Linked DNA regions of Homo sapiens: all the other regions are reported to be linked to region 3. Evidence: microRNA targets listed by miRTarBase, many of them from high-throughput screens and not tested one by one. Region 3 holds a microRNA gene; each other region holds the end of a gene's coding sequence.

Region 1 (3,000 bases), not on the chromosome of region 3:
TACAATCTTTTTCTCTCTGTTGCAGGCAAAATTTCATGCAACTAAAAAAGAGTGACTTGGCATTGTTTAAATCAAATGATTAATAGAAAAGACAGTAATATAAATCATATATTTAAGAAACCCTAGAATAAAATATTGTAGGATCCTTTCCTTATTATACCTTGTGAAAGAAAAAAAAAACTCTAAATCTAAATGTTTCTACATATGTATGAGTGCACATTCATTATTATAAAAGAATAAGTCTATCTTAAAAAGAGATTTACTTTAAAAACCTTTGGTAAAGATACTCTGAGGTTATGTTATAAGAATGCATAATAAAGATTGTAAGCAAGCAGTATTCTGCTGACGATGCCACAGGGATGGGTCTGTGACAGCATTTTCTTACAGCTTTTCCTCTTGACATGTAAACATTCAGTTACACAAGGATTTAAATGTAATAAGCAAGTAGAATGTTACTGCATTTTATAGTATAAATATTCAATAAATTCTTCTTCTTTTGGCAAAATTAATAATAATATGACCACTTTAAGAGATACAATCTATCCCTCAATAAATTGGACTCTCTGCTTTGTCCTAAAGAGAATTTCTCCGAAAGTATTACATAAAAAGTTACTAAGTCAAAATTCAAGCCGATTACATTATCAGCCCTATTGTCAAATAGTCAGTGCTACTTGAGGTCATCAGCATGGTCTGGCTTCAATTTGGAAGACAGGAATTCAGAGACACAGTTGACATTGCCTCCCAAAACTAACATGCTGCCCCTAAGTGAATCTCATCATATTTCACATTATGAGAAATATACGATCAAAGATAAGAGAACTAGGGTAAGAAAAAGACAGTGGTCAAAGGAAGCTCTTAAAAGCTATAATTTTGGTGGTTCTAACACAAAACCGTTTAGTGACAAAAGCAAATGAGCCATACATTAAGGATGAGCTATAGTGACCATCGGCTTAAGAATTTCTAGTCACAAAAAAAGAATCACTTTTATGATCATTCCTATTCAAGTAAAATAAATTTAATTGGAATTCCTGAGGAATAGTTTGCAATTCAAAACACGTATCCATAATTTTTTATTTCAGTTCTGATGTTAAAATTAAAAACTAGAAAAAAAACTAGAAATCTGAACATCACTTCACAATAATGAAAAAGATATCTGTGGAATAAGGAAACGGTACATTGGAGGATGTAATTATACTTGTTATATTTGGTGTCTTAAACTGGGTATTAGGTATATAGGAATTCATTATATTATTATTTATACCTTTTTGTAGACTTAAAATACTCCATAATTTAAAAGTATATACTTGTGGGAGATTTGAAGAAAGATTTAAGAAATCTCAGTCCAAAATCCTTAGTTTACAAAATGGCAACTTGCCATGACTAAGCTAGGTGTCTCTCCTTAAGTGAAACATGTTCGAACTTAATAAGTATGGCTTGGCAGTTGGCAAGCAAGTGTTTCACTGGCTAATAAAAGTTTGAATAAAGATTCTAGGCAGAGATTCTGCATATTTTTAGCTCATAAAGACAATTTTTGTTTCAGTGATTGTCTTTGAAAGTGTGGTGTAAATGTCACATTGATGATATGAAAATGTCTCCTGCAATATGTAATTTCAGTTGCAGAAGGATTATGAGAATAATGAAACTGTGGTTTCAGAATCTTTTCAAGCTTTCTACTCTTTTGAAAGTAAACCAAACAAAACTGCACAGTTTTATTTTGTATGCTCTGATTTGCAATTGTCAGGCAAAATGGACCTGGTAATAAAAAAGAAAAAGAAGAGAATTTGAACGGTTTTTTCACAGCCTTCATCCTCTAGAGAAAAAGGCAATTTTGATAGTTGTGTTGGATATTAGAATAAACATGACAATATTTTTAAGATGAGAAGTGGGACAGTATTGAAAATGTTATCTTCTAGAAGAAATCAAGTTTGTCTGTATTACAATGTTCAGGTAGTGCGGAAAAGAAAAATCTTAAGGTAATATTGTGGGACAATAATGTTTTTTTAAACATAACCCCAAAATGCCTTTTCTAGCATATCCCACCTGTAATTTCTTTAGAAAAATATTGAAGCTTGGTTGTCTGTCACTACTTATTAGCTATGGGCCGATAACTCTTTTCCAATTAGCCTTGATCACTGGTCACTATAGATTCTGAATTCTGATGGTTGCAAATTAAATTTGGGCTTGTTCTAACTTATGTAATTTACAGCTTAAATTCTTTACAGCCTAACAAAAAAAAATTGTGCATTTCCCTCCCCAAGGACGTGAGTAGTATAAAGCAAGAGAAGAATATCCTCTTCAATACATGGGAAAAGAATGGCTACTCTTTACAGTCACAGGCAAAACGGAAATGATAGGATGGAGATTTCAAGCCTAAAAGCACCTGTGAGTTGGCAGACTCACCCAGGAAAAACTATGTGACAGCAAATACCACACTAAGAAAAGCCATTCAACCAGATGAAAAGTGAGACAAACATAGGGATTAAAAGTTACAGGAATGCAGAAGTGAATGGGATGGAGCATAATCTGTGCAAAAATGTGGAAGTCCTTGGGAACAAAGGCCCATCAAGATCCTACATGATTCAATGTGAAATGTGTATTTGGTAACAACTTTTAAAAAAAATCTCATAATTTATGTGTTTCTAAGGCAAGGTTAATAGCAGATGAAGAACAGAGACTATCGCGTAGTTTGATGGCCTTTACTCTAGTATTTCTTATCTTTTTCTTGTGTTCGTTCTTCTCAGTGCCGGCTGAACAGGTGACTGAATCTAAAGGTCAGTGCTCGCCTTGGCGGTCAACACCCTGATGCGGGCAGAGTTGCAGGTCTTGCAGAGGATGTGCCCATCCAAGGGGTAGCAGCCTTGGTTATCTCCTTCAGACAGGAGACCACCGCAATCCTAGAACAGTAAAGACAGATGGAAACGACATAAGTAAAAACGTTAAGTACACATGTGGAGAACATCATGATTGAGCTTTCTATTCAAGGCCTCCATAATGTGGCCA
Region 2 (3,000 bases), not on the chromosome of region 3:
CTTTTATTCCACACCATCACAACATTTGTTGTCTTTTGTTTTTTTTGATAACAGCTAGCCTAACTGGTGAGAGGTAGTACTTCGAGTGGTTTTTATATGCATTTCCTTGATGATTAATTATGTTGAGCACCCTTTTATATACCTGTTGGCCATCTGTGTGTCGTCTTCGGAGAAATGTCTTTTCAGGTCTTGCCCATTTTTAAAATTGAGTTGTATGAATTCTTTATAAATTTTGGATACTAACCCTTTTCCATATATATGCCTTACAAATATTTTTTACTCAATCTGTAGGCTACTGTTTCATTTTGTTGACTGTTTCTTTTACTGTCAGAAGCTTTTTGGTTTGATGTAGTCACATTTGTTTTTGTTTTTGTTGACTGAGCTTTTGGTGTGATATCCAAAAAATCATTGCCAAGGGTCAGTGTCCAGGAACTTTTCTCCTATGTTCTCTTCTATAGTTTCTGGTCTTACATTTAGGTCTTTTATCCATTTTGAATTGATTGTTGTGTAGGTCTAAGATAAGGGTCTGATTTCATTGTTTTGCATGTGGAAGTGCAGTTTTCCCAGCATCTTCATTAAGAACACTTAATGAAGACTGTTCTTTCCCCGATGTGTCTTCTTGGTGTCTTTGTCAAAAATTAGTTGACTGTGTATGTTTGGATTTATATCTGGACTCTTTCTTCTGTCCCACTGGCCTGTGTATGTGTTTTTATACCAGTACCATACTGTCTTGATTACTATAGTTTTGTAGTATAATTTATAATTAGGAAATGTGATGTCTCCAACATTTTTTCCTCAGTATTCTTTTGCCTATTCAGGGTCTTTTATCGTTACATATGAATTTTAGGATTTTTTTCTGTTTGTGTAAATAATGCCATTGGAATTTTGATAGGATTGCATTGATTCTGAATTGCTTTGGGTAGTGTGACCATTTTAACAGTATTATTCTGATCCATGAGCACGGGATACCTTTCCATTTATTTGTGTCTTTCTTTCATCAGTGTTTCATAGTTTTCAGTGTACATACAGATCTTTTACTGCCTTGGTGTTAAATTTATTCCTAAGTAAGTATTTTTTTTATGCTATCATAAATGGCATCTTAATTTTTCAGTTAGGTCATTATTTTCATTATTTATGTATAAAAATGCTAATGCTTTTTGTATGTTGATTTTGTATTCTGCAACTTTACTGAATTCACTTGAGTTCTAACAAACAGATTTTTTTTGTGTGTGTATCTTTGGGGTTTTTACATAGAGCCCAGTTTTAGTTTTAATAGAAATGTTTATAATAGTGGATGGAATAAAGACTTTGTATGATTACTGTGAACCACTATCTCTCTCTATATATATAGATAGATATGAATGAGTATGTGTATAAATACATAAAGCAAAGGCTTTGAGAAACAATACTCATCTTTGCTTTCTGTAACATACTATGGCACTTTCTGTTTTATTTTCATTATAAAATGTCAAACATGACCCAGTGGGGTTGTGATTAGCAATTAGAGAAACCCCATCCTAGGTAATAAAAAGTTTTCCCAAATAGCACCTATATGTCTTTCTGACTGTGGTTTAATGAGTAATTAAGACCATTCAGCCAAGATTTACATTTGCTGCCACCTTTAATAGCACTGATGAAAAGTAGAACTTTTTTTTTTGACTTCTTTTTCACTGTGCCTCTAATCAAGAAATTTTTGTTAAAATATTAAGGGTTTTTAATGTTTAAAGAATGAGACATAAAAAAGTTGCAGAAAATAAATGATAAATTCTTATTTATTGAAAGACATTCAGTTGAGGAATAGGGATATAACTGTTTGTTAGGTAAGCTTATATGGCACATGATTAAGTTCCACTAATTCGTATTTCTGCATTATGCTTTCTGATAATTCCGGAGCATTATACTCATGCAGCAGTGGTAGGAAGTACTGATGTTTTTTTAAAAAATGTCCATTCTTGGCCAGGCGCAGTGGCTCACGCCTGTAATTCCAGCACTTTGGGAGGCCGAGGTCGGCGGATCACGAGGTCAGATCAAGACCATCCTGGCTAACATGGTGAGACCCTGTCTCTACTGAAAAAAAAAAAATTAGCTGGGCATGGTGGCAGGTGCCTGTAGTCCCAGCTACTTGGGAGGCTGAGGCAGGAGAATGGCATGAACTTGGGAGGCAGAGCTTGCAGTGACCCGAGATTGCGCCACTGCACTCCAGCCTGGGTGACAGAGCAAGACTCTGTCTGTCTCAAAAAAAAAAAAGTCCATCCTCTTGATAAAGCAGTGTAACATCAGGAAGATTTAGTTGGGGTCATTGTCTACCATTTGAGTATGCGATACCCTAATGTTAAGAAATCAAGTCTAAGTCTAGGAAATTTAGACCAATTATTTTTGATATACAAAACTTACATATATAAATGCAGTAGTTGTACCTGGCTTTCAGCTATTTTTGTGTTGACATTTTCCATCATTTATGGTCTGTCCCAAGCACAAAATCCATGGGATACCAGGTAATGATATAATGTAGTAGTTGCACAGTTTGCTTTTCCATACTGTTCAGGAATCCACGGATTTATCTGAAGGTTCTTTTTTCTCTCCTATAGTATCACTAAGGATTTCATCAGATATCTTAGCTGTGGTAGGTGTAGTCTGGGGAGTCACAGTGTGTCCAAACCCTTGGTAGTGACCCATGGGTGAAGGTGGCATAGAAGAAGCAATGGAAATTGCATCTTGTGATGATGATGATAATAAACTTGTATGTTCATTTTGATCTTGATCCTCGGGAAACAATTTTTTCCTGGGATGTCCCCTGACTGTCCGTCCTTTAATATAAAGTTTTCTGTTAGTCAAAAGTTATTTTTACCATTATAAACTTACCATTCTAAAAATAAGCTCCCCACTTCCCCCTCTCCCACTCCCCAAAGTTGATGAGCCTGCACTGTGGTACTGCTTTAAAGTCTTTTTTCATCTCTAAATAGATAATAAATTGCCCTAGTAGGAGAAATTCAATATCCT
Region 3 (3,483 bases):
TCTTAAGGACGAAGGCCCCACTGTCCCTCACACGTGTTCCTTCCTACTTGCATTGTACTCAGTCCTCATGGCTTGCATCTGGAGGCTATGGGCGGGGGAGTGCTTTGAATATCTATACGTGGAAAGCCTTGTTTTTTACTTTTTAAGAAAGGGTCGTTAAATTCGTGCTTTGTAGACCTTCAACAGCTCATCAAGGGCTACTCTCCACCTCCTTGCTTAAAAGCCTCTTCTGATGGGTAAGTGCTTCCACTTGCGATCGCCGCCTTGCCGCATCCCCTCAGCCTGTGGCACTCAAACTGTGGGGGCACTTTCTGCTCTCTGGTGAAAGTGCCGCCATCTTTTGAGTGTTACCGCTTGAGAAGACTCAACCTGCGGAGAAGATACCATTTTGATTGGGTGAGGGGGCGGGTAGCAGGATGGCCCTAGACCCTGCCTATGGCCGTTTCCTCGTGATATAAATTTCTTGGCCGGGGCTCTTGCAGATGGAGCTGCTCACCCTGTGGGCCTCAAATGTGGAGCACTATTCTGATGTCCAAGTGGAAAGTGCTGCGACATTTGAGCGTCACCGGTGACGCCCATATCAACGGATGCCGTGGAGCTCGGTCTTCTGCAGGAACTAAAGAGCCTGTGGTTTCGATTCCCAGCCGGAAACTGTCTTGGGTACAGGTCCCTTACAGCGTCTGGCTGTAATGGCTCCGGAAAACCTGGGGAAGGGAAGGGGGCCTCCTGGGCTCTCACCTGACACAACTAAGGGAATCTGGGTTAGATGGTGAAAGGAAGAGAAGGTTCAGAGGGCGGCTGTGCGCCTGCGCCGGGCGCGGCGGCTCACACCTGTAATCCCAGCACGTTGGGAGGCCGAGGCAGGCGGATCACGAGGTCAGGAGATCGAGACCATCCTGGCTAACACGGTGAAACCCCGTCTCTACTAAAAATACAAAAAATGAGCCGGGCGTGGTGGCGGGCGCCTGTAGTCCCAGCTACTTGGGAGGCTGAGGCAGGAGAATGGCGTGAACCCGGGAGGCGGAGTTTGCAGTGAGCCGAGATCGCGCCACCGCACTCCAGCCTGGGCGACAGAGCAAGACTCATTCTCAAAGAAAAAAAAAAAAAAAAACAGCAGCTGTGACCAAGGGGCTGTATGCACAAAGAAAGGAATGCTTTTTGCTGTTGGTGTTATAATTGATATGTAACTTTCCTCTTCCCCCATAGCAAGCAAGTTTATTGCTGACATTTAACATGTGCTTGGATGATTGGAGGCCAACCTCTTGTAGGCAAGAAAGTCACAGTGATGGCAGATCCTCGCGAGGAGCTCATACTGGGATACTCAAAATGGGGGCGCTTTCCTTTTTGTCTGTACTGGGAAGTGCTTCGATTTTGGGGTGTCCCTGTTTGAGTAGGGCATCACGAACCATCCTGCTTCAAGGGAGCCTGCGGGTCTGACTGCAGCTTCAGCTATGACCTGGAGTTCCCGGGCTTCTCTGCGGGGCACCAGTCTGTATGCTCCATTTTAGATAATAAAAATTGGCATATTCTGGGGTGGGCAGGATACGGGGTTCACCTGCAGATGAACAGGGCAGGAAAAGCTTGATGGGGTGTCGGGGGAATCTGGTTGGCCTTAAAGGGAATTTGGGGTCCTGTTCCTGAATTTGGTAGGCAGCATGCATGTAAGGCTTGAAGTGGGTTTGGCCAGAGCATGGGCTGGAGTGCTTCCACCCTGCTACACGGACAATGCCACAGTCTCACTTTTCCTAACTTTTTTTTTTAATAAAATGTGAACAACATCATGTGTTTCTGGTCTATTGGGTTCCTCTGCCACCCACAAGTGCTGGGATTACAGGCATGAGCCTCATGTCTGGCGTTACTGAACCTTCTTCTATGACCCAAGTACATTGCCTAAAAATACTTGTCAGTATTTTGTGCTTCCCTTCTACCCCTGCTAGAACTTAGAGTTATGCTCTTTGAGAGTTCTGCTCTTTAAACTTCAAACAAGTTTAAAAAGTAAGGCCGGGCACAGTGGCAGCACTGCCGAGGCCGACGCAGGCTGATCATGAGGTCAGATCAAGACCATCCTGGCTCACACGGTGAAACCACATCTCTACTAAAAAATACAAAAACATTAGCCGGGCATGGCGGTGGGTGCCTGTAGTCACAGGCTGAGGCAGAAAGGGCATGAACCCGGGAGGTGGAGCTTGCAGCCAGCCGAGGTTGTGCCACTGCACTCCAGCCTGGGTGACAGCGATAACTGTCTCAAAAAATAAAAACCACCCAGGCTGAAGTGTGGTGGCACCATCACAGCTCCCTGCAGGCCTGAGCTCCCTAGATCAAAAGATCTTCCCATATAAGCCCCCCCTCACCCCACCCTTAGTAGCTGGCACCACAGGAGTGTCCCCGCCATGCTCCACTAATGTTTAGTAGAAATTGGGGTCTCATACATTGGCCAGCTTGGTCTGAAACTTAGGGGGAATCAAACATCCCTCCTTTAGTAGAGATGGGGCTTTACTGTCTTGCCCTGGGTGGCCTCCCTGGGATGATGGGTGTGAGCCACAGTGCCAGGCCTAAGTTCATATTTGGAAGGTTTTTTTGCTTCAGATGGTCTCGTGCTCTCGCTCAGGTTGGAGCGCAATGGCGCAATCTTGGTTCACTGCAACCTCTGCCAGCTTAAGCGATTCTCCTGCCCCCGCCTCCCAAGTAGCTGGGATTACAGGCATAAGCCACCACGCCTGGCTAATTTTTTGCATTTTTTAGAGATGGGATTTCTCCACGTTGGCCAGGCTGCTCTGGAACTCCTGACCCCAGGTGATCCACCCACCTCGGCCTCCCAAAGTGCTGGGATTATAGGCGTGAGCCACCACGTGGGGCCTTCAGTAGGTTCTTAGTTGCTGTTTGCCCTATCACTGGTTTCCGGGTCTGCTGGCCACTATCCCCTGTAAGTTTTCCTATCCCCTGTAGGTGTTCCAAACCCTTGCGGCTGCTTTGCCCACTCCACAGTATCTGAACTGAAGTAAGATCTCAAATTCAAGGGAGTTTTGTTTTGCTATTTGTACCCGCAATTCATAAAGCAGTTGTAGCCTCTGTCCCAATACCGCCACCACTGGTGGGGAGTCCGCCACGGTAACCAGTAAGACTTCTCTTTATATTTGACCTACCTGGGCCTCCTGTCATCTTTTCTACGGGCAGCTTGGGGATTGTTAGTTGAGGGTTTTTTGTTTTTGTGTTTTTTTTTTTGTTTTTTTTTTTTTTTAAAGAGATGGAGTCTCGCTCTGTCGCCAGACTGGAGTACAATGGCATGATCTTGGCTCACTGCAACTTCCACCTCCCAGGTTCAAGCGATTCTTTTGCCTCAGCCTCCCGAGTAGCTGGTATTATAGGCACCCACCACCATGCCCAGCTAATTTTTTTTGGATTTTTAGTACAGATGGCGTTTCCCCATGTTGGCCGGGCTGGTCTCACTAAACTCCTGACCTCAAGTGATCCACCCACCTTGGC
Region 4 (3,000 bases), not on the chromosome of region 3:
GCCTCCCAAGCCAGGGTAAGCTCAGGGCCCTTTTTTTTTTTTTTTTTTTTTTTTTTTTGGCATGGCTTTTTTATTCTCTTTGCAGCCAAGACCTGTTTTTACAATTAAAACCAAAATTTTGAATCACAAGGTTCCTATGTCTATGCATACTTGGGAACTTAGTGTGAGGAAATAATAGTTAATTGAAATACTAGTGGAACTGTTAAACCACAAATTTAGACTACCAGGAGAAACTGAATTATTTGATATATTACATGTAATGATGCACGTTATATATTTTACATATATTACATATATATTTTTTTAGGTGAAATGGGCCCACTTGACTCACTGAACTTTATTTTTTAGACAGAGTCTCGCTCTGTCGCCCAGATTGGAGTGTGGTGGTGTGATCATAGCTCGCTATAACCTCAAACTCCTGGGCTCAAGCATTCCTCCCACCAAAGTCCTGGGATTAGAGGCATGAGCCACCACACTTGGCCTACTTATATTACATCTAAGCTGGATTTTAAGTACATGTGTATACACTGCTGTTGCCAGTTTCTTAGCTTATACAGTAAAGGTTAGCAGACTATCATTTTTTCCTGCAAAGACAACTCTATAACTAACTATTTTGTAAGGAAGAACACAGTAGAGTGATTTAATCCAGATTATACTAAGAGTATTTATAGATCAGTCCATGTGACTTCCAGAATTTGCCTAGTATGGTTGAACACTCAGCACTTAAATTATGTGGCCATTTCATATCTAGTAGAGTGCTAACATGTTGCTATTTGCTTGGTTTTTCATGGTCCCTGGCAGACTGGGTTTGTAGATGAAACTGAAGCTGCCAAAGTGGAACGTGTGAAACAGGAAAAAGGTATTTTCTGGGAACCCTTTGCTAATGTGACTGTAGAAGAAGCAAAGAGGTCATCTTTACAGGTATGGGCTGATTTCAATAGGGGCCAAACTTTAACAAGGCAAATTCTGCCCTTTTTACTTACTGACGAAACAAACCAGTGTGGTTTCCAGCCTTATGCTGAATTTCAAATCAAATAGATCTAGACATGTAAAATTCTGTTTTATGGTAGTTGCTTTTAAAATTAAGAAGTGGGACTACACCATATCAAATATATTCTTTCAGTATGTTTGAATTATTGGTAGTAACCTTTAAGGGAAGTTACATATTGTACCAGTGATGCTATAAATGCAGTCTTTACTGAACCACAGAAGAAAATGAAAGAAACTTACTCCTAAATGTTTAGTTTGATTCCTTGCCTTATTAATCAAATGAGTCTCCTAATAATTTTTGGCAGTAACTGAAGATCACATCTACTTATTAAAAGGCAGAATTTGACACCAATAAGGATATTCAAAATATTGTTTTGAGCACTATTAGTATAGTAATTAGTATAGTAGTAATTCATGAAGAACAACATTCTGATAAGTTTTAGTCAAACTCTCATAAAAAGAAAATACATTTATGAACTTGTTTATAAGACATGTAAGCTTGGACTATGCAGCACTTCTCATTGGGAGCCCTTTGGGACAGGATACTTGTTGTATACCACATACAAACTAAGACACTGGTAGTAGCACTCTGAATTGCTATGATAAACCAAAATGCCTTTACATATTTTTCTAGATGACTGTGTAGGGGTTTTGGGGTGCATCCTCCTACCCTTGTGATCCAATGACTAGAATAAAATTTGCATGTAAGCTTTACTCCAGTCCAAAAGGAAGGTTCTTTATATTTAGAATGGATATTGTGATATTACTTATGTTTTTTTTCCAGCCTTATGCAAAAAGAGCTCGTCAGGAGTTCCCCTGGGAAGAAGAGTACAGGTCAGCGCTGCATACAATAGCAGGGGCTTTGGAAGCAACTGAGTCACTACTCCAAAAGGGTCCTGCTCCAGCCTGGCTTTCAATGGAAATGGAGGCGCTCCAAGAAAGGATGGATAAGCTAAAACGTTACATACATACTCTAGGGTGAAACTTATCACTAGGCAGAACTGGGTTTGATGCTTTGTCAACTGAAAATACTTATGTCTGTACATTTTCTAACAGATATAAAACAAATTTTGTAAAGTTGAATCTAGTGAAAATAATCTTTATTTGACATTTAGAGAACAGGATTGTGGGGAATATTCTTATTAAGAACTTTGGTACAATGTACTACATGTGGAACAGTCAGGAACTGCCTAGGTCCACAAAGAACCATTTACTCAGATAGTCTAACTGTAAACAAATAAATAAGCTGCCTAAGGAAACCTCAGCAATTTAAAATCATTTATATAATTTATAGCTAAAATTTTTTAAAGTTGTATTTCATAATAGAGCTTACTCTTATGTTAAAGAATGGCACAAAATTAAGCTAACCAGCTTGAATTACATTTTCTTTACTTCCAGAATTGTCCTGGAAAAAGCAGTAAATTCGACCTCTCCTCAGCTACTTGCTCTTCATAGAAACTGGCCTCAGTCAAATGCACAAAGGCTCTTCCTCCTGGAAACCAGTACTGTGAGCCTCACCACCCAGGGCTTTTAGCCAGCACTCACAGTCAGTCTCCTACTTCAGTTGGCACAGACTGGATAATGAGCTCCTGGGATGGGAAAAGCAGGCCACTTTGGGGTTTTCTTGTCCCAAAGCCTGCTTTTGAGGTATTGATTTTTTTTAAAAAAAGGGAATCCTTTTTCCTAAAGTTTAACTCACATCTATTGTCACCAGTTATTATCTTCCCAGTTCAGCTCCCCTTCTTCTTCCCAGCCTTCAGCCTCTCCCTGCAACAAAATAAAGCACACCAAGAACCCACTGAAACAAATCATATGCAAAAATCATACGCAAATTTGAAAAAGCAGGAATTTAAAATTTATCTTTTGATGCCAGAAACACTACCTCGTACTAAGTAAAATAACTTAGAGCTCTAACAGAAAGTTGAAAAGTAGGATTACAAAACCATGGCACTGGAAAATAGCTTTTCAAAAACCATAAAATCCAGTAAAAATCAGTGTGGATGACACCAA

Evidence for each region. Region 3 holds the annotated microRNA hsa-miR-373-5p (ACUCAAAAUGGGGGCGCUUUCC, at 1,320-1,341, shown strand). A microRNA usually pairs through its seed, bases 2 to 8, with sites in the 3' UTR of a target mRNA and lowers its output. Matches are read on the target gene's strand: a 7mer-m8 pairs with bases 2 to 8, a 7mer-A1 pairs with bases 2 to 7 and ends in A, and an 8mer does both.
Region 1: the mRNA of LPP is a reported target of hsa-miR-373-5p. The part of its 3' UTR that is shown has no 7-base or 8-base seed match.
Region 2: the mRNA of TMEM184C is a reported target of hsa-miR-373-5p. Seed matches in the 3' UTR shown: 8mer at 2,232-2,239.
Region 4: the mRNA of SCYL3 is a reported target of hsa-miR-373-5p. The part of its 3' UTR that is shown has no 7-base or 8-base seed match.

What each region holds. Positions count from the first base shown.
Region 1 is chr3:188,874,245-188,877,244 of GRCh38, reverse strand. LPP (LIM domain containing preferred translocation partner in lipoma) reads right to left here. Exons shown (of 12, transcript NM_001375462.1): 12 at 1-2,894. The coding sequence ends at 2,766. Among named protein-coding and RNA genes, the nearest start is that of TPRG1-AS1, 72 kb to the left of the region's middle.
Region 2 is chr4:147,633,976-147,636,975 of GRCh38, reverse strand. It overlaps TMEM184C (transmembrane protein 184C), which reads right to left. Exons shown (of 10, transcript NM_018241.3): 10 at 255-2,807. The coding sequence ends at 2,542. Among named protein-coding and RNA genes, the nearest start is that of TMEM184C, 18 kb to the right of the region's middle.
Region 3 is chr19:53,787,391-53,790,873 of GRCh38, forward strand. MIR373 (microRNA 373) reads left to right here and starts at 1,315; the gene lies at 1,315-1,383. MIR371A (microRNA 371a) reads left to right here and starts at 285; the gene lies at 285-351. MIR371B (microRNA 371b) reads right to left here and starts at 352; the gene lies at 287-352. MIR372 (microRNA 372) reads left to right here and starts at 500; the gene lies at 500-566. It also overlaps LOC124904767.
Region 4 is chr1:169,851,016-169,854,015 of GRCh38, forward strand. SCYL3 (SCY1 like pseudokinase 3) reads right to left here. Exons shown (of 13, transcript NM_020423.7): 13 at 1-2,757. The coding sequence ends at 2,698. It overlaps FIRRM (FIGNL1 interacting regulator of recombination and mitosis), which reads left to right. Exons shown (of 25, transcript NM_001320047.2): 24 at 802-921; 25 at 1,775-3,000. The coding sequence ends at 1,972. Among named protein-coding and RNA genes, the nearest start is that of SCYL3, 41 kb to the right of the region's middle.